Linked DNA regions of Homo sapiens: all the other regions are reported to be linked to region 1. The links are microRNA targets in miRTarBase. Many come from high-throughput screens and were not tested one by one. Region 1 holds a microRNA gene; each other region holds the end of a gene's coding sequence.
What was found. The annotated mature microRNA hsa-miR-155-5p reads UUAAUGCUAAUCGUGAUAGGGGUU and lies in region 1 at 1,760-1,783, shown strand. An mRNA with a match to its seed (bases 2 to 7 or 8) in the 3' UTR can be bound and repressed. Matches are read on the target gene's strand: a 7mer-m8 pairs with bases 2 to 8, a 7mer-A1 pairs with bases 2 to 7 and ends in A, and an 8mer does both.

Region 1 (3,585 bases):
ATATTTAGACAAACTTCTCATTTCTCTGCAGTGTTCGGAATTCATCATGCCTGTATGACAAGGTTGTGTTTGAGAACAAAAGGGGACCTGTGTGACATGTTTTATTTCAATATACATTTAGAGTTTGAACAAATAAAAAAAGCTATTAGAATTTTTAATATATATAACACATTATCAAAAACACTGTCACTTTTCTGAGTGCTCTAATCAGGCAATTCGTATGTATATTTAAAAAGAGGGAAAAAGCTAATTAGTATACTAAATATATTTATTTTAATACCTGTGCTCATATGTTATCTTTAAAGAACAGGAATAAAATTTATGGGTAGAATAGTATGCCAGCAATTTACCTTCAATACAAATTAAACACATCTTTTAAGAAAAGGGCGAGTTATATTGGCTGGGGTGGCACTAACACTACATTATTAATATGTATTTATTGAGCATTTACTGTGTCCAGGACCCTGTAAGGGGGAAAAAAAGTCCTTGTTTTTACAATCTTTATTGACTGAAATTCTGTAAAATGAATTGAATTCCTGAAGTGACATCATTTAACCCAAATTTTTTCATCATCAACTAATTCATCTCAGAAAACAGTAAAGTTTAAAAAAAAATACTATCAGTAAGAATAATATATTTCCTTGGTTTGGAAATTTCCAAACCACGATATTCTGCCCTGTCAAAATATATTCACTGGGGAATTTTTTACTTCATACGTTTCTTTTGAACTTAGTCACATTTTTATATCTAGCTGGTTTCATTATTAAATAAAAGAAAAGGTGATTCCCCTCTTGTACTGCAGGAGACCACATACTTGAATGATACTCTAACTTCTAGGTTCTGTTATAGTAACACTGAAATCAGAAACCTGTGGGAGAAATGTCACTTTATCTGAGAGAGTAAAATCAGACTCTAAAAGGAAGTAGCAAATTCATCTTGTTCTTTTTTTTAATCAACCCTCTGCCTAAGACAAGTAGTTTGAAACACAGAGGACTCTTTAAGTCATACTTCCTTTATGTAGTCAAAACCAAAGCCACTGGGTAGTGCTTTCCCCAAAGGAATCTCTAAATAGTAGACGGGGACATTTTCAGATAGATTCGTTTGTAGGCAAACCTCCATTGCTTGTATCACATTTCCTGAAAGAATAAAGGTAAAACTTCAACTATGTATTACAGAAAGAAAAATTCAGCCTGAACCCTACCCTTATAAAACAGGTTAATTGGGTTTTAATTTTCATAAATCATAAAGGACTATTTTGAACATTTGGGCCTTTAATTGTCTAGCTCCTAGATGAAGTACAAATCAGAAAAAAAAAAAACTGTACTGTGTCAGAATGCAAGCTTTCCTCTTTGCATTTTGGCATTTGAAAACTCCGAAGAGCGGTTTTTGTTTTTTATTTAAAGAAGATGATACATATGTGTACCCGATTCAAAACTAGAGAATAGAATTTAAAACATAATTTTCAAAGTCTTCAAATATGCCTAAAGGTAACAATGTCATCTTTTAATTGCCAATTTCTCTACCACTTTCAAAAAATTACTTCCAAGGATTTAATGAGCTCCTTCCTTTCAACAGAAAATGGACTATTTTCCTTTCAGATTTACTATATGCTGTCACTCCAGCTTTATAACCGCATGTGCATACACAAACATTTCTTTCTCTCTTGCAGGTGGCACAAACCAGGAAGGGGAAATCTGTGGTTTAAATTCTTTATGCCTCATCCTCTGAGTGCTGAAGGCTTGCTGTAGGCTGTATGCTGTTAATGCTAATCGTGATAGGGGTTTTTGCCTCCAACTGACTCCTACATATTAGCATTAACAGTGTATGATGCCTGTTACTAGCATTCACATGGAACAAATTGCTGCCGTGGGAGGATGACAAAGAAGCATGAGTCACCCTGCTGGATAAACTTAGACTTCAGGCTTTATCATTTTTCAATCTGTTAATCATAATCTGGTCACTGGGATGTTCAACCTTAAACTAAGTTTTGAAAGTAAGGTTATTTAAAAGATTTATCAGTAGTATCCTAAATGCAAACATTTTCATTTAAATGTCAAGCCCATGTTTGTTTTTATCATTAACAGAAAATATATTCATGTCATTCTTAATTGCAGGTTTTGGCTTGTTCATTATAATGTTCATAAACACCTTTGATTCAACTGTTAGAAATGTGGGCTAAACACAAATTTCTATAATATTTTTGTAGTTAAAAATTAGAAGGACTACTAACCTCCAGTTATATCATGGATTGTCTGGCAACGTTTTTTAAAAGATTTAGAAACTGGTACTTTCCCCCAGGTAACGATTTTCTGTTCAGGCAACTTCAGTTTAAAATTAATACTTTTATTTGACTCTTAAAGGGAAACTGAAAGGCTATGAAGCTGAATTTTTTTAATGAAATATTTTTAACAGTTAGCAGGGTAAATAACATCTGACAGCTAATGAGATATTTTTTCCATACAAGATAAAAAGATTTAATCAAAAAATTTCATATTTGAAATGAAGTCCCAAATCTAGGTTCAAGTTCAATAGCTTAGCCACATAATACGGTTGTGCGAGCAGAGAATCTACCTTTCCACTTCTAAGCCTGTTTCTTCCTCCATATGGGGATAATACTTTACAAGGTTGTTGTGAGGCTTAGATGAGATAGAGAATTATTCCATAAGATAATCAAGTGCTACATTAATGTTATAGTTAGATTAATCCAAGAACTAGTCACCCTACTTTATTAGAGAAGAGAAAAGCTAATGATTTGATTTGCAGAATATTTAAGGTTTGGATTTCTATGCAGTTTTTCTAAATAACCATCACTTACAAATATGTAACCAAACGTAATTGTTAGTATATTTAATGTAAACTTGTTTTAACAACTCTTCTCAACATTTTGTCCAGGTTATTCACTGTAACCAAATAAATCTCATGAGTCTTTAGTTGATTTAAAATAATTTTTATGGCCCATTTTCTTTTGCAAAGTACAAATTATAATTCCAGAAGCTATCTGCCAAAAAAAGACAATGGAAGAAAATTATGAGGACACTAAAGGGAACATTCCTGACTCCTAGGACACAGTATTCTCATGTAAGAATACCCATTTGGCTTTGCCCCACTTTCTGTTCAAGTTGTATGTGCTGCCAAGACAAATTTCTTCTCCTCACTTTCTGTTCAAGTTGTATGTGCTGCCAACACAAATTTCTTCTCCTAACACCTGGAATGAGCTTGTGGCTCCACGGAGCTCCCATGTAGGTAGAACACATTCAAGAGTGTTTCTTCAGGCCAGGCACAGTGGCTCACGCCTATAATTCCAACACTTTGGGAGGCCAAGGCGGGTGGTTCACTTGAGGTCAGGAGTTCTACACTACCCTGGCCAACATAGTGAAACCTCGTCTCTACTAAAAATACAAAAATTAGCTAGGCATGGTGGTGCGTGCCTGTAATCCCAGATACTCAGGAGGCTGGGGCAGAAGAATCACTTGAACCCAGGAGGTGGAGTTCACAGTGAACGAAGATCGTGCCACTGCCCTCCAGCCTGGGTGACAGAGTGAGACTCCATCTCAAAAAAAAAAAAAAGTGTCTGTTCAATTCATT
Region 2 (3,000 bases), not on the chromosome of region 1:
CAGGAGGGCCTGGAGGGGGCGCCTCTGACACCGGAGGACCTGATGGGTGTGGCGGGGAGGGTGGGGGTGCCGGAGGAGGTGACGGTCCTGAGGAGCCTGCTTTGCCCAGCCTGGAGGGCGTCAGTGAAAAGCAGTACACCATCTACATCGCACCTGGAGGCGGGGCGTTCACGGTGAGAGCTTCTGAGGGCAGTGGTAGAAGAGGGGAGAGGAGGGAGGGTGGTCTGGGCCACATAGAACCATGAGCCTGGTCTAACTCATCAGCACTCTTCCCCTATACATCCTCTATCTCTTTCTATGTCCCCTCTCCTTTCCCATCATCCATGTCCTTTTTTGCCTTATCGCTTTTATTATTCCTTTTTTCTTTCCTCCTCCCTTGGTCACCTTTTGCCTCTCATTCATTTCCTTTTCCATCTTCTCCAACTTTCCTCTCTCTTTTCCCCTCTCTCCCTTTTACCCCCTCCTCAGACGTTGAATGGCTCGCTGACCCTGGAGCTGGTGAATGAGAAATTCTGGAAGGTGTCCCGGCCACTGGAGCTGTGCTATGCTCCCACCAAGGATCCAAAGTGACCCCACCAGGGGACAGCCAGAGGAAGGGGACCATGGGGTATCCCTGTGTCCTGGTCTATCACCCCAGCTTCTTTGTCCCCCAGTACCCCCAGCCCAGCCAGCCAATAAGAGGACACAAATGAGGACACGTGGCTTTTATACAAAGTATCTATATGAGATTCTTCTATATTGTACAGAGTGGGGCAAAACACGCCCCCATCTGCTGCCTTTTCTATTGCCCTGCAACGTCCCATCTATACGAGGTGTTGGAGAAGGTGAAGAACCCTCCCATTCACGCCCGCCTACCAACAACAAACGTGCTTTTTTCCTCTTTGAAACCTGCAGTTCTGTGTGTCTGTTTATCAGGGGTGTACAAGAAAAAGAAAGGAAAATAGATTGGGGAGGGAGGCCTAGAAATAATGTAAAATCAGCCTTGGAAATGGGGAGAAAATGTCGGGTTATTCGAGATATGTCGTCGGAAACTCCAAATTAGCAAATATGTATGAAAATAGGAACCATCTATGAAGCTGGAAGAGAGGATAAAAAACAGAGGTGCCAAGTTAGACCCCAAACTTTCCCCCCTAAAACCTGAGTCGCCCAGGCTGAAATCCAGGGTTTCAACACCAAAGGGAAAGCAGGAAAATGGCTCAAAAGAGAAAGGGATGTGTGTAGATGTGGGAATGACCGTGATGTTTGGAAGTCACTGCGAGCAGCCGGTTTCTATAGCTGGAAAGAGGGAGGGAGGTGGAGAGGACTGCGGAGAAGCTCCCTGTTCGACATCCCAGTCCCCGGGCCACCTCCCAAAAAAGGGCAGGCTGGGCTGCAGACTCGGAGTGTGAGTGCACAGCCTTTGCCCGCCGGGCAGCGGGGCTGAGCGGAGGGAGGGTCGCCTGGGAACACTAGTTCTGTGCTCGTCCAGGCAGCGGCTGAGAGCAGAGGAGTGGGGGCATCAAGGAAAGCCGCGGCTGCCTTACTGGCCTCGAGTTCCGCGAGCGGGGCTGGGCACCAAGCCTGAGGCTGGGGGGACAGGGGCGCACGACTGCACTCCCGGTCCGGGGCAGTGCAGGTATTCGGGGAAGAGGAATCGCCTCTCCAGAACCGACTGCTGTTCCTTCCACCACCCGTAACCTCTCTGCCCCTCACTTCCTGTTTCCTCTGCTCTGGGTACCCCCAGCCCCTCTGGCCCCAAATTCCTCCCCCATGCTCAGTTCTCTGTCTCACTGGCAGAGGAGCCGGCCGTGTTTCCCCCTAAAGCCCGCTTGGCCCTCCCAGTTCCGCAGCTGCGCGGCCCGCCCGCCGATCCCATGGCTCCCTTCTCCACCCTTGGGATTTCTCGTTTGTTCGCCTCCTCTCCGGTACCCTCAATCCCGTAGATGCAGGTGGGCATCCTCCAGCCCCAGCAAGTACTGCGGACCAGTTGGGCTGGCTGGCCCCTTTCCTGCAGAAGCAGACAACACCCACTTCTACCCTCGTAGGAGCCCCTTTCTACACTCACTTCCCTGGAACCCGTGATCCTGACTCCCCTCCTCCCGGACCCCAAGCATCCAGGACGTGTACGGTATAAGGGGAAGTTGTAGTGGGAGGCAGGTGGGCGTTGTTCCTGGAGTTTCAGGGTAGAGAAGCAGGTGGGGAGGAGTTGGGTGAGATACAGAGGTGGAAGCCAAAAGTCTGGAGTTAACCTGACTTCTCTTCTGGCTCCAGGGGCTGCCGGGATCGTCTGTCCTCACCCTCCTTGTCCTCCCCAGCCCTAACCACCCGGCAGCCTCTTCTCTGTCTCTGCTGCCCGTCCTGCCTTCACTCTGAAACAGCCTGCCCCCTCCCGGGTCCCCAGTCCTCACCTTTGCCCCACACGCCCCCCTCTCTATTTATCACATTTCCTTTCGTGTCCCCCTAACCCCATCGCTTGGTGCGAGTGCTCTCTTGCCCTCCTCTCCCCATGACTGAACCTCACAGACATGGCTGTTTATTTAGGTGACACCATGTGGGAGACACAGAGGAACCCATTTCCATCCTGGCTCCACTGGGGCATTTCCTTTCCAAGTCCTTCAGTCCCTCCCAACCAAGCCTATGTTACTGGGTCAGGCAAGGTGAGAGATATAAAGTATGCAAAAGAAAACGTTACTATTTTGTTGAGGAACAAGATACATGTGGAATAGTTGACAATGCAGAGGAACAGGGTAGAGGAAGGAGGGTTGATACAGTATTAGAGTCAGACAAACGTGGGTTCAAATCGGCTCTGCCACTTACAAACTGAGCCACCTTGCACAAGGCACTGGGTCTTCCCTCTGTTTCTTCACCTGCAAAATGGGGGAGAGTAACAGGTTGCCCTGAGAATTGAGAGATAATACAAGTAAAGTTACACGCCTAACAGATCAGTGGCTCTCCCAGTGTGGATCCCAGACTAGCAGCATCAGCATCGCCTGGGAACTTGTTAGAAATGCAAATTCTTGG
Region 3 (3,585 bases), not on the chromosome of region 1:
ATGAGACTTATTCACTATCATGAGAACAGCACAAGAAAGACCTCCCACCAGGTCCCTCCCATGACACATGGGAATTATGGGAGCTACAATTCAAGATGAGATTTGGATGGGGACACTGCCAAACCATATCATGGGGTTTGTCACTGGCCTGGATGGAACATCCTTGTCAAGATGCACACACACACACACACACACACACACACACTTAGAGAGACAGACAAAAGAAAGAGAGAGAGGGAGAGTGCACGGTTTATAATGAGGGATTGGACCAGGTGATTTTTTGGAAGCTGAGAAGTCCCACCATCTGCCATCTGCCAGCTGAAGGTGTAATTCCAGTCCAACCTCAAAGGCCTGAGAAGCAGAAAAGCCCGTGATGTAAATCCTAGTCTGAGTTCAAAGGTCCACGAACCGGGAAGGCCGATGAGAAAGGGCAGGAGAGGACGATGTCGCAACTGAAGTAGAGTGTGCAGATTTACACTTTCTCCACTTTCTGTTCTATTCTGGCCCTCAGGAGACTGGATGATGCCCACCTACAGTGGGAGGGCTATCTTCCTTATTCAGTCTATGTATGCAAATGCAAATCTCTTCCAGAAACACCCTCACAGGCACAATAAGAAATAAAACCGTACCGCTTGTCTGGGGCATCCTTTAGCCCAGTCAAGTTGACACATAAAATTAATCATCTGCCGGGCACGGTGGCTCATGCCTGTAATCCCAGCACTTTGGGAGGCCTAGGCGGGCGGATCACGAGGTCAGGAGATCGAGACCATTCTGGCTAACACAGTGAAACCCCGTCTCTACTAAAAATTAGCCAGACGTGGTGGTGGGCGCCTATAGTCCTAGCTACTCGGGAGGCTGAGGCAGGAGAGTGGTGTGAACCTGGGAGGCAGAGCTTGCAGAGAGCAGAGATCGCACCAGTGCACTCCAGCCTGGGCGACAGACTCTGTCTCAAAAAAAAAAAAAAAATTAATCATTATACTGGCTCATTCAAATGAACAAACTGCTTATTCAAAAAAATAAAATTGTACCTCAACTCCTGCCCTCAAATTAAAGGTCAATGCTATGGTTTGGCTAAGGAAATATCATGCATTTTAAAACCCTAATCATACCTCTAGCCCATTGCTGAAAGGGCATCTACCAATAAAAGTATCTCCAAATGATCGTTCCTTGAGTTGGTACTCACCTTTATCAGACATTTAGAGGTTTCCTTTCCACAGCTATGGTCCTTTTTGGAGCCAGCTGCTGTCATCAAGGGAGAGAGAGTGCTGGCTGCTGACCTGTGGGTGGCCAGACGCTTCTGATACTCTGCTAGCCTTGGGCTCCTGGCCCTCTTGCTTGAAAGTTGTCCTCAGCCCCTGCAGACAGACGCTCTGGGGCTTGACTGCTCCATTTCTGGACTTCCTTGCCTTCCTCTGCCCCTCGGAGTCTCCGTCATCTTCACTTTCCTTTATTTGCCGGGCTTCTTCTCCCCCGTGGCTGCTCCCCGGTCCCAAGTTTCCAGAGTTTTTACCTGCTTCCTGGTGTGCCCAAACTATCTAGTTGAATTTAAGTTTTGTTTCTGAAAAACCCAAGTCTGCAAAATCACATTAAGAACTGATAGTGAGAGTTCTTTCATTTAAATTCTTTCCTAAACAAAACAATCCTGCCTTGTTGTTAGGGGTGCCGTCAGCTTAAATATGTAAATGTCCTTCACCTTTCTTGATTTTTAAGGTTTGTTTTCAGAAAAACAGGAATTGCAACTGGATGGCAAAATGCACATTTCAGCAATACATACAAATTCACATTTATTCCTACACTGGCTACAGAGAATACTCTGTTCTCCAATGTCTATAAACAGGGCCTGGCTCATAGTTCTAATTAATTAACTTTATTAACTTAGAGCTGAAAGGAGGTGGCAACTTAAGGAAATAAAAAGCAATAGACCTTGCCCGACTAGTTCCATATAACTGCTTTTTAACTGAAGGTAAAAGAACAGTCACTTACTTATTACATGTAATAAAGCAAAATAGATGCTTAGACAGACTGCATAGCACAGTCTATTCTCAGCTTATCCACAGAATGTTTTCAAAAAAAGAGAGACAAAAGAAAGCATTTTTTTTCATTTAGTGCAAGTAGCAAGTTTATTTCCTTTGATATAGAATTAACAGAGTAATGATGCCCAAATGAGGTAATATTACATTTGCTTAGGAAAACTTTCCTTGAAACACTTATTTAGATCTTTGTTAAAGTTATTGATTGTCAGATCAGAGAAATTGCAATCCCAAGTTTATTCATAAAATAAAAAAAGTTGTTACTTTGGAAATTTCAAAATGGCAATTTTATCTCAGAGTCATAATTACAAGGGGAAAAATACTCTCTTAGCCAAGATCAAGAATTTCGGCAGCACTGCAATTCTGTTTACATCCACGTTACACAAAAGCACATGCATTTGGCAAAGAGAGTGCATACATTCTTATTGCATCATTTTTCGTTATGTGCTCAATTGCCTTATGGTCCCCTAGAGGGTCTACTTAACATGAATTCAACAATGATGATAATGGGGTCACCAGTCATTTCCTTACATATATAGCTCTGATGTATTCAATTACATGTTTTTGATGTTGTGCTGGTAGTATATAGATCCCAATTAAGGAGAAACTTGGGCCTATATAAACAATATATATGGAATATACATGGATATGTAAAGACTTGAGGTTGATGACCTGACATCCATTAATGTTAAAAATAGTAAAGTAAAAATTCCAGTGGCTTAGAAAGATGGTATTTTCTTAAGGACACACTGCTGAACACATGGCCACCTACCTGCTCTCTAAAGCAATATGTATAATTTAACCACCAAATAAAGAACTGAGGAATACCAGGAGACAAAAAAAAAAAAAAAAGGATTAAAGCCCGGTACAATCTTGAATAAACCAAAACCTCCAGTACATAGAAAAAGCATTGCAATCATATATTTAGCTTTATTTTTCTAATATATATCATAATTTAAAACTATATAAAGTCACTTACATAAAAGCAATTTTTTCAAGTGTTATAGTTTAGAGCATGGCTTTATATTTGGCTTAATCATTTTTTTTAAAAACCAGTTTAACTTATAAAGCTCGTAATCTTGCCAGCAGGGCTTCAACTTCGGGAACTGATTCATTTTTAGAAAAAGAGCCAAGAAGTTCCGTTTCCTTTTTTCTGTTGCTTTCTACATTACACGCTTCCTTCTTCTCAGCTGCCTTGATCCTCCCAGTAGACGTATGAGTGTCTAGATTATAATTAAGCTCCTTGGCGACTGGAGTCCTTGTTGAGTTGCAATTGATATTGTAGTGTGAACGTGACCCTTCTGTCAACTGCACTTTCTGATTTTCTACAGTAAGGAAAAAAGAAACATAAAACTTATCACCATGATAACCAAGGACTGTGCACGTTATGAAACACATTTAAAATAATTATTCTCAATAAATAAGTAGTCTTCTTAGATAGACTAAACAAAGAAACAGTCAACAGAGTAAGACAGGTTTAAAATAATCACACAGGGGTTTAAGAATAAACTAAAATATAACAGCCAACCGTTTCATTAGCACTAATGCCCATTTC
Region 4 (3,585 bases), not on the chromosome of region 1:
GAAACTTCTCACAAATTTGTAAAAGAAGGCGCTAATGTAAACATATTAGTTGTCAGGTCAGATTAGTAGCTCTGGTTGTTACGAATAATACAGTAGGTTAAGCAATCCTAAAATAAATATACTTCTAAATTTTGAACATTTTTCCTCTTCCTTTCACAGATTTTCATAATTTGTTCACTGGTGTATGGCTCCTACTACTACTGCCCAAGATATTTCACATTTAGTCTTCATCAAGATGAAATTTAGATTTTTCAAAAACAATGACCAGTATATGTTTTTGATCTAATTTACCAAATGATTATACACTAATTTGATAGTGGAGATGATACATGAGTAAAATATTGTTAAAATACAATGTATAGAATAGATGTGTTTATAATTAAAATCTTTTTTTTTTTTTGAGGTGGAGTTTCACTCTTGTTGCCCAGGCTGGAGTGCAATGGTGCAAGCTCGGCTCACTGCAACCTCTGCCTCCTGGGTTCAAGTGATTCTCCTGCCTCAGCCTCCCAAGTAGCTGGGATTACAGGTACCTGCCACAATGCCCAGCTAATTTTTTGTATTTTTAGTAGAGACGGGGTTTCACCATGTTGGCCAGGCTGGTCTCGAACTCCTGACCTCAGGTGATATACCCGCCTTGGCCTCTCCAAGTGCTGGGATTACAGGCGTGAGCCACTGCGCCCGTCCTAAAATCATTTTCCACAGTCTTTCAAATTCCCTTATCTTTTGGGAATAGGGGATTAAAAATAGTATAATAGGATATATTTAATAATTTGATTGCTATAAACAAAGAAAACTGAATTGGGGATTTAAAACTAAATATGTGATGAATCTATTTTAAACTGCTTTTCTTTAAATAAAGTCTGGGCCAACTACAATAGTGCACCTATTTCTATGCAATAGATTTATTCAAATCAATGAAAAAGTTATTGCTATATATTATTATGTTATTCAGACAAGCAACATAGAAAATACTCAGACTATCAATTGTTATTAGTTGCTCCTGTTGAGTTCTAAATTAGAAGAGACTAAAAATCACTTGCAAGGTTTTATAATCTGTGCAAATATTCATAAAGCATGATACTACATTTATGATTAAAAATGATTTTACATAGTTTTGTAGTATATATTCAAATCTACAACTGGCAGTTTATGGAAGAACAAAGAACTGTAAATTGCCCGGCTATAGTATTCAAGAAATAAACATATATACTAACAAATGAACCTATGTTTTATAATTACAAATGGCTTCTTAACAATAGTCTAGAACATTATGGCACTTAAGAATATAATATGAATTTTTTTCTTAAGAAAAATTATCTTGCAGAGACTTTATAAGGAGATCGCAAACAGGTTTAAAAAAAATCAAGGAAAAGAAAATCAAATGACTACAGTTCCAAAATACAAGTACCGACATAATAATAAAATGCAAGTGAATGTGTTTAAGACTAACAGACATTTACTAAAACATGCTAAAATCAAATAAGTTAAACACTTTCTTTAAATAAGCTGTCACTGGCTACAGCAAACAATTTTGCTTTAAAAGATCATTTCTTTAATCAAAGTAGAACTCAACTTAGAACTATTACTCAAGTAAACATCGAGTTCCAGTTTTCCTCAATAACCTTAAAATATTCAGTTACCTAAGAAATGTACAAAGTAATGCATAACTGCCTAGTGCTTTATATTTAATGCATATATTTCTGTTTTTAAGAAAGACATGTAATATCTAGCACAAGAAGAAAGAAGATCAAAAGTGTAACTTTCTTTAAATCACTATTCAGGAACCATGAAAAGCATAACACAGGCCATTCTGATGATTTTTGGATGTTAACATTGGCGTAATCACTAACATTTTTAATAAGCACAAATGAATCAAGCCATTAAAAATGCAAAAGACTATCAAAACATGTCATGCATATCTCATACTGAACATCCAAAAGGACATCAGTTATAGCCTTGTTATAAATCCTACAGTTAGCACCATTTTATATCTGAACACTTTGAAAAAGCAAAGATCTTAAAAAACTAAAATTATAAGGATATATAAAAAAATTAATATGCACTAAGAATGGTACTAAACACTGCTCAAATATTTACATCAGCACTGGGAGGCCTGCTGTACTACTGAAGAAAAACTGAAACACCTGATATGCTTAAACTCCTATCCATGCTAACCATAGCATAGATAGGTAATTAAATTCATCCAACGTTAACCTGCCCATATACAAAAGGCATAAACAGTAAATATCTGATTTCCTAAAATAGGGCCCCAAATATCATGATAATAAAAGCAATTGTCTTAAAAATTTATTACATCCGTAGCCCTAAAACCATTTAGCAGGAAAGTATTCAGATGACTACCTATTGGCATGTTATTTACAACCTTTAAAAGTACCAAAATAAAAAGCAGCCCTTTGTTTGTTTTAAAACAAATGAAAAATGTGAAGCATTTACATCCAAGAAGCAGTATCAGCACTCTGTCCATTCATTCAATACACTCCAGCACCTAAAGCATCGCTCATCCTAGAAAATCATGGTTATCAGGGAAGGAGAGCTAAAATAAAAAAAAAAAAAAAAAAAAAGCAGCCACGTTTTGTCTACATGTACACTTATGAACATAAAACTAGTACATCTCAGTCTTGGGGGAAAAAGTGCAGAATTCAATTGGCAAAGTCTTTACTTTTTTTTTTTCTCTTTTTTCTTTTTGATTATTGATTTACTGTGTAATCAAGAGCAACCAAAACTACTTCTCAATTAAAAGTACCCAACAAAACTTTTGAGCCTTCATGCTACTTCAAGTTAAAAAGAAAGCAATGCAGCTTGTGGGTTTCAGAAAACTGGGCCATCCGGATGTTCATGCAGTACAAGTTTCACCACCATACTATTTCCGAGAGTTCACATTTGTCAAAGTGCAGTTAACCCAAAGTTGCAGCGACAGTATATCATGCCAGCTGAATCCAGCCACGTATCTGAGATAGGATCATATTTCTGCACTGTATTCAGATAGGAAGACCCTGAGTGACCACCGACGACATAAAGGTAGTTATCGATTACAGCAGCACCAACTCCTAGGAAAGGTTGGCAAAAAGAAGATAGAAACATGTTAACCATGAAGTATACTTTTTCTCACTAAAAATAAATTTGTATTTTAATGTTTTATTAAAATACATTTTAACAATCTATTATTAATTATACAGGCAATATACAGTAGTCCTCCCTTTATCTGAGTTTTTGCTTTCCATGCTTTCAGTTACCTGAAGTCAACCATGACTAGAAAATAGGGAGTACTGTACAGTAAGATATTTTGAGGGAGACCACATCCACATAACTTTTATTACAATATATTGTTACAATTGTTCTATTCTATTATTGTTGTTGCTAATCTCTTACTGCGCCTAATTTACAAACTAAACCTTATCATAGATATATATGTATAGGAAAAAATATTACATATATAGGGTTTGGTACTATCTGCAGTTTCAGTCCACTGGGGGTCTTGGAATATATATCTCCTGTGGGTATGGGGGGCCTACTGGAGCAATATGAGCTTGATGGAAAAACAAAATCCTTATAATAAAAGTAAGA
Region 5 (3,585 bases), not on the chromosome of region 1:
TGGAGGACGGGATGGGAACTCTGGCTCAGTTGCTTGCATGTAAGCTTTGGGGGCACAGTCTGACACAGGTACCCTCTCCAGATCCATGAGACCATTGAGTCCATCAACCAGCTGAAGACCCAGAGAGATTTCATGCTCAGTTTTAGCACCGACCCCCAGGACTTCATCCAGGAATGGCTCCGTTCCCAGCGCCGAGACCTCAAGGTGTAGTCCTCTTTCCCGAGGGGACTCCTATGTAAAGCTCTGGGTGATTTTTACCCACAGCAGTTCCCAGGGTGGATTAGCCCAGGGGTGGGGATTATGCTATGGCTTTCCTCCTGGCTCTTTGCAGATCATCACTGATGTGATTGGAAATCCTGAGGAGGAGAGACGAGCTGCTTTCTACCACCAGCCCTGGGCCCAGGAAGCAGTAGGCAGGCACATCTTTGCCAAGGTGAGGCTCTGCCCTGTTTTCCCTCCTTTGGCCGTGAGTAGCAAAGGCCTGAGCCACTTGGTTTCTCCCTTCTCCAGGTGCAGCAGCGAAGGCAGGAACTGGAACAGGTGCTGGGAATTCGCCTGACCTAACTGCTCAGGGATCTTTCTTCCCAGCCCTGGAGCCTGGAGGGAGACCACCCTCTGGGTCCTTGCTGGGGCCGCAGACACGTAGGCTGGGGTGAGGAGTGTCTGCTGTCACCCTCTACTCTCCAGCTTTAGTCTTATAAATGTAGTGATAGGATTCCTTGTTGCTTGGTCCCCAAAGCCTTATACTTTTTGCATTGGCTTTAATTGGGTTCAGCAGATGCCTCCTCTGCCCCCCTGCAGGCAGGCCCAAGTAGGACTGCTGGAGGCTGTGCTTTGACATTGTAAGACATTTCCGAACCAAAGGCTGCTGGGTTTGCATGTTTACAGACTCCCCCTGGGGCGAGGGTCAGAGCTGGCTCTGGGGAGCTGGGCTAGGAAGAGGAGGTGCAGCCCAGACTCTTCCTAGCCTTTCTAAACCAAAGTTCTTTGCCATTCCTACAAGCCCAGCCTTGCTGCTGGTTTTTTCCTTTCCTTTGGGTATTTGCACTATTTTGGGAGCAAGTTTTCTATGTGGGAGCCACTTTTTTTGTACAGGGGTAAGTTGGGGGTTTTCAGGGAGCCTGTTAGGTGCCTCCTTCTTTTCTTTCCTCAATCTATGCAAGCGGCTCTGGCCGCCATCATCTCCTGGGATGCCAGAGGGCTGCCTCTCCAGCGGCTTGGGCCGGGGAGGGGACACTCCAGTTCTCTAGCATGGCCTGAGGTATGGGGTATGTGCATGTGGAGGCCAGGGTAAGGTGAATGGGGAGGCTGGGAGGACTGGTGTTGCCCTTTGGAGCTTGGTGAGGAGGGTGGGCCTAGGGCTTGGCGAGTGCCACATCTGGCAGGTTTGGAAATTTCCAAATAAATCCTTTTGTCTATTGGTGGTGCCTGGACCTGGTCCTTGAACAGCACAGCCCTCATTAACAGACTGGAGTCCTAGAGGACTTGGCCCACAGAGCTTTATTGGAGAGATACACACAAAGGCTGTCCACTCACTTCCATAATTTCTTGATGGACATGTTTTTCTCACTGTCCTTCTGCATGACCTAGGGGTGGGAGAGAGAATGAACATTAAGTTACGAACACACACATGCCCTAGCCCACTGCCCCAGAGCCACCACTGGCAAAGGCACAAAGATGGAGGCCTATACCTTGGCTACTGCCATCTCAAAGTCCTCCTGAGTGACATGGACTCGCCGTTCTCGCAGGGCATACATGCCAGCTTCTGTGCACACGCCCTGAACAGGAAAAGGAAATTGAGGCCCCACTGCTGTGCCCCTCATCTGTGGCCCTTGAGCCCAGAGCTTCCTGCCTCTGCCCTGTTTTCAGTGGGTACTCCAATTACCTTCACTTCAGCCCCTGATGCTCCTGGCATGAGCTCAGCAATTTTTCTCAGGTTGATCCCCCGGGTCAGGTTCATCTTCCGAGAATGAATCTTCAAAATGTCCAGCCGGGCCTGGAGATGGCAAGGAAAAGCCTGAGCCCCACACCCCACCCCCACAGCCAGAGCCACTTTGCACAGTGTCCATCACAAACCTCCTCATTGGGGGGTGGGAATTCAATTTTTCTGTCAATGCGCCCTGGGCGAAGCAGTGCCGAGTCCAGGATATCAATCCTATTAGTAGCCATGATAACCTGAGCAGAGAAAGCAAGTGGGGATCAGCTAAACCTCTTCCTCAGCCTGCGTGGCACCCAGGCCTTCCCTGGGCCCATCCCAAGGATGCTACCACCTTACCTTGATGTTCTTGGTGGCCTCAAAGCCGTCGAGCTGGTTGAGCAACTCCAGCATCGTGCGCTGCACTTCACTGTCCCCTCCAGAACCCCCCTCCAGCCGCGAGGAGCCGATGGAGTCGATTTCGTCCATGAAGATGATAGATGGAGCATGTTCCCGTGCCATGACAAACAGCTCCCTCACCATTCTTGCCCCTGTGTGGAGGCCGAGCTGGTGTTAGGGAGCTTATTAGCTTATTAGCTCTCTAACCCCCTACCCCTACCTCTTGCTTCTCACATTGCTAGCCATGGTTACCTTCCCCTATGAATTTCTGTACCAGTTCAGAGCCAGAGACACGAATAAAGGTACAGTCCGTATGATGAGCCACAGCCCGGGCCAACAGTGTCTTCCCAGTGCCTGGAGGTCCATACAGCAGCACTCCCTACAGGGGAACAGCAGGACTCAGGGCAGAAAGCTACACCCCTCATTTCATTCAGTGAACATTTACCGAGTGCTGGGTCCCTTGCTAGATGTTAGGGATACAAAAAAAAAAAAGGAACATCAAGGTCCCTTCTATCCAAACCACCTCACCGCCCTAGGAACACTTCCCCAGCCACTCTTTTCAGGGGGAGGGCCAGCCCAAGCAAGATGCAGCCTATCCCGGTGCCTCCCCAACCCCTGCAGTAGGGCTGGCTGGGGCAGGAGGAGTAAGTACAGCTTGGCCCTCTCAGAGAAGCCCTGCTCCTCACCTTGGGCTGAGCAATGCCCAGTGCTTCGAAGAGCTCAGGATGCTTAACAGGCAGCTCGATCACTTCTTTGATCTCCTTGATCTGTTTGTCCAGTCCACCAATCATCTCATAAGTTGAATCTGGTACTTTCTCCACCATCATCAGTGACACTAATGGGTCTACCTTGTTGGGCAGGATCTTGTGCAGAGTGTAGCTGTCATTCCTTAGAGCCACCCGGCAATTGGGTGTCACCTGGGTGAAGGGGGCGAGTTTCAGAAGTGGTACAGTAAGAGCTGACCCCACCACCACCACCACCTCACCTGCTACACTCACATCATTGATGTCAATGTTTTTGTCCACGTCTACAACAAATTTACCTTCAGGATGTACCTAAAGAAACAAGGGCTCATGACCTTCCTTGACAGCCACCAAATCACTAATCCTACCCAGGAAGACCTATGAGAATCCCACAATACCTTGACAGAACACAGAACCCTGTCTCCCGAGGCTACACACAAAGGGGTGGGAATGCAGTGGAGACCGAGCTGGTCCCTGGGGTCATGCTGCTTTTACCTTGACCAACACTTTCTTCTTATCCATGGCCCG
Region 6 (3,585 bases), not on the chromosome of region 1:
AGTTGAAGACTTTGATTTCTTCCCTCCTCTCATCCCTCAAAAAACTCACTCTTCTCTGCTAAGAAATCTAAGCTCACATAATGGCTGATTCATTAGAGCCTTGGGCTCCAAGGATAATGAACCAGAAAGGAGATGGATCTTTCTTTTTCCTCATAGGTGAAAACGCTAGAATACATCAAGAAGCAAAGCAAACAACCAGACATGACTCATCTGACGGAGCTGGCCCTCAGACTCCCTCTGCAAACAAGGACCTGACCCCCGGGCCCATCCCCAGGCTCAGGGACTCTGGTGCCAAATCCAGAAAGATCTGCTCTGCTGCCCTGAACTCTTACGGCAATTTAGGTTTCTCATTTTTCTTTTCTTTTTACATATGTACAAATTGTTTTAAGCTTTGGCCTCTATCCAGGTTATTCTGACAATGAAGAAATGGGAGTTGTCAGAGCATTAAAATGCAATCTTCACTAAGAAGCAGTCTCTGTGTTGTCTTTGCACAAGTGGCCTTCGGTCTACTCAGCCCGATCTGATGGGCCTTTTTAGCAAGAGAGAAACAAGAATGCAAGTAACATCTTTCTTCTCTGGAAGGTGTTTGTTTTTTCATAGTTTAGAAATAAGGACTTTAAAAGTGGACTGCTTTTCAAAGTGCCACTGTTCCAGACCCATTCCATTCCAGACTTTGTACCTTAAAGTTAGAGCACACCCAAAGTCTGGAACTGTGTTACCTGAACCCCTATGGAGGATTTATAAAAGGCAGAAATAGCACTCCATTAACTCTTTTTCCTATCAAAAGCAGCTCTTGATTGGACTTAGAATCTGTGTTGGTGGATCAAAGGAGAAAGCGAGGTCAAATTTGAGATTCTCTGTGGCTTCAGTATACAGTAACTGAATAAATGTCCTGAAGGAGCATTTATGTTCATGACTGTTCATTTAATTACTTCTGACTGTCTTCCTCCAGAAGAGAAAGACCGTGTCTAAATATATTATCCTGGTTTGTTTTGCAGCCACAATTCTAAACAGCATGTGATTCTGTCTGCTTTTCTTCCAACAGTTTGGTGGAACCTGATTCTTCTATTACGGCTGGTGAGCTTGCACCGACATTTCATTTTGAATCAGTAAAAACATTCATACTGATGGGTGATTCATCATCTCAGCCACTGCCATTATGAAAATGCATCCACACTGTGGATTAAAAATGCCCCAAACTATTGTGCTTCTACAAGATCCACACTGGAACTGGACATAGATTACATTTCATCTTTACTCTGAGAAATACAAGACTACAGTTGAACACTCAGTTAACCTCAGACAGTAAAAGGGGCTAAAAAATTTTTTTAAATCAATTTATTGGCCGGGCACGGTGATTCACGCCTGTAATCCCAGCACTTTGGGAGGCTGAGGCAGGCAGATCACCTGAGGTCAGGAATTCGAGACCAGCCTGGCCAACATGGTGAAACCCCGTCTCTACTAACAATACAAAAATTAGCCAGGCGTGGTGGCACACACCTGTAATCCCAGCTACTTGGGAGGCTGAGGCAGGAGAATCGCTTGAACCCAGGAGGCGGAGGTTGCAGTGAGCCGAGATTGCGTCACTGCACTCCAGCCTGAGTGACAAGAGCAAAATATCATCTCATCTCAAAAAAAATTAAAGGACAGCAGACACTAATGAATGCTTCTTTCCCTCCCCTCTACTAAATCATACAGAAACTCAGACAGCATTGTGGGGTGGCTCAGATACTCCCAAGTGGCCTTTATTTCACAAAATTCTGTTTTTTTTTCTTTTTTTTGAGACAGTTTCACTCTTGTTGCCCAGGCTGGAGTACAATGGCGTGATCTCGGCTCACCCCAACCTCCGCCTCCCGAGTCTAAGCAATTCTCCTGCCTCAGCCTCCTGAGTAGCTGGGATAACAGGAGTGCGCCACCACACCCAGCTAATTTTGTATTTTTAGTAGAGATGGGGTTTCTCCATGTTGGTCAGGCTGGTCTAGAACTCCTGACCTCAGGTGATCCGCCGCCTCGGCCTCCCAAAGTGCTGGGATTACAGGCGTAAGCCACCGCACCTGGCCCACAGAAGTATTTTCATTAAAATTATTTTATCTACTTTTACTGTGTGATGCTATAAAATGAAAAACAATTGGCAAATTCACAAATTATGTTCTTCAAGTCATTTCTTCTCCTCTGAGGCTGAACGTGGTGGGCAGCATTAGTTCCCAAGCCTAGGCCAGTGAATTCTTACCGCTCTCACATTACACCTGAACTTGGACTTTCACATGAGGTCGGGCACCCATTATATCAAAGGTGCTTCTGAATCCTGTCATGTGGCCCAGGCAGAGGCTTAGATTTTATATGTCCTTGTGTGTGCAGTTTCCCCCAGCCCTTTACTGAATCAATAAGCCGGTCTCTGAAAACACTGGTCTATGTGAGATGAAGTCTATCATTAGCAAGGATGGAGCAATAAGATGTCAGCCAGAATTGTAGAAAATAAAAATGATGGGGCCTGGGTGCGGTGGCTCATGCCTGTAATACCAACACTTTGGGAGGCTGAGGTAGGTGGATCATGAGGCCAAGAGATCAAGACCATCCTGGCCAACATGGTGAAACTCCATCTCTACTAAAAATACAAAAAAAAATTAGCTGGGTGTGGTGGTGCTCACCTGTAATCCCAGCTTCTCAGGAGGCTGAGGCAGGAGAATCGCTTGAACCCTGGAGGTGGAGGTTGCAGTGAGCTGAGATCACGCCTCTGCACTCCAGCCTGGGCGTGGAGTGAGAGTGAGACTGTCTCAAAAAAAAAAAAAGAAAGAAAAACAAAACCATGGCAACTTCCACATGAGACTTACTTACATTAGGTCTTCTATTGTTACTTTAACAAATTGCCACAATTGTAGCGGCTTAAAACATAATGTTGTCATCTGACGGTTCTATAGGTCTTAAGTCCGCCTGGTCTCACTGAGCTAAAATTAAGGCATCAGCAGGGCTACGCTCCTTCTGGGAGGCTCTAGGGGAGAATCTACTTCCTTGCCTTTTCCAGCTTCTAGACAGCACACACATTCCTTGGCTTCTGACCCTTCCCTTCCCATCTTCAAAACCAGCAGTGTCTAGTCAAGTCTTTCTTAAGTCTCTTTGATGTGGACTCTTTTTTGCCTTCCTCTTCCACATTTAGGGATCTTTGTGATTCCTCCGGCCCACCCAGAAACACGGGATCCTCTTCCTGTTTTAAGGTCAGCTGATTAGCAAACTTAATTCCCTTTTGTTTCGTAACCTAACAAATACACAGGTTCTGAGGAGATGTGGTAGGAAGGGGTGTTATTCTGCCAACTTCTTTTGTGAGGACTGTGTCTATTTGGCAAATTTTTTTTTTTTTTTGGAATGGGGTCTTGCTCTGTCACCCAGGCTGGAACACAGTGGTGCAATCATGGCTCACTGCAGCCGTGATGGAGGGTGGTGCTCAAACCAATGTTAATTTACAAAGGATGGGAGCTCAGAGTGATTCTCCCAAGACAAGACTGCCAGAGGGTGGGGTCCTGCTCATCTGAGAGATGGTGATCTGCACTGGCAGAAAGCAAAAGGACAAGATTAAGTCCATTCTGAAGA

Region 2: the mRNA of RING1 is a reported target of hsa-miR-155-5p. The part of its 3' UTR that is shown has no 7-base or 8-base seed match.
Region 3: the mRNA of DIAPH3 is a reported target of hsa-miR-155-5p. The part of its 3' UTR that is shown has no 7-base or 8-base seed match.
Region 4: the mRNA of KLHL28 is a reported target of hsa-miR-155-5p. Seed matches in the 3' UTR shown: 7mer-A1 at 1,686-1,692.
Region 5: miRTarBase lists SMARCD2 as a target of hsa-miR-155-5p. The part of its 3' UTR that is shown has no 7-base or 8-base seed match.
Region 6: the mRNA of VPS35L is a reported target of hsa-miR-155-5p. Seed matches in the 3' UTR shown: 8mer at 441-448.

The regions. Positions count from the first base shown.
Region 1 is chr21:25,572,224-25,575,808 of GRCh38, forward strand. It overlaps MIR155 (microRNA 155), which reads left to right and starts at 1,757; the gene lies at 1,757-1,821. MIR155HG (MIR155 host gene) reads left to right here. Exons shown (of 3, transcript NR_001458.3): 3 at 1,670-2,945. RefSeq lists a silencer at 1,701-1,880 and an enhancer at 3,432-3,581.
Region 2 is chr6:33,211,830-33,214,829 of GRCh38, forward strand. It overlaps RING1 (ring finger protein 1), which reads left to right. Exons shown (of 7, transcript NM_002931.4): 6 at 1-173; 7 at 469-887. The coding sequence ends at 570. Among named protein-coding and RNA genes, the nearest start is that of RING1, 4.8 kb to the left of the region's middle.
Region 3 is chr13:59,663,492-59,667,076 of GRCh38, forward strand. It overlaps DIAPH3 (diaphanous related formin 3), which reads right to left. Exons shown (of 28, transcript NM_001042517.2): 28 at 2,092-3,355. The coding sequence ends at 3,093. Among named protein-coding and RNA genes, the nearest start is that of DIAPH3-AS1, 350 kb to the right of the region's middle.
Region 4 is chr14:44,926,124-44,929,708 of GRCh38, forward strand. KLHL28 (kelch like family member 28) reads right to left here. Exons shown (of 5, transcript NM_017658.5): 5 at 1-3,068. The coding sequence ends at 2,905. Among named protein-coding and RNA genes, the nearest start is that of DORIP1, 31 kb to the left of the region's middle.
Region 5 is chr17:63,829,917-63,833,501 of GRCh38, reverse strand. It overlaps SMARCD2 (SWI/SNF related BAF chromatin remodeling complex subunit D2), which reads left to right. Exons shown (of 13, transcript NM_001098426.2): 11 at 82-204; 12 at 332-433; 13 at 511-1,421. The coding sequence ends at 564. It overlaps PSMC5 (proteasome 26S subunit, ATPase 5), which reads right to left. Exons shown (of 12, transcript NM_002805.6): 4 at 3,553-3,585; 5 at 3,313-3,369; 6 at 3,001-3,231; 7 at 2,567-2,693; 8 at 2,276-2,466; 9 at 2,077-2,175; 10 at 1,886-1,996; 11 at 1,692-1,778; 12 at 1,483-1,586. The coding sequence ends at 1,533. Among named protein-coding and RNA genes, the nearest start is that of FTSJ3, 4.0 kb to the right of the region's middle.
Region 6 is chr16:19,700,222-19,703,806 of GRCh38, forward strand. It overlaps VPS35L (VPS35 endosomal protein sorting factor like), which reads left to right. Exons shown (of 31, transcript NM_020314.7): 31 at 157-942. The coding sequence ends at 255. It overlaps KNOP1 (lysine rich nucleolar protein 1), which reads right to left. Exons shown (of 5, transcript NM_001012991.3): 5 at 1,716-3,585. Among named protein-coding and RNA genes, the nearest start is that of KNOP1, 16 kb to the right of the region's middle.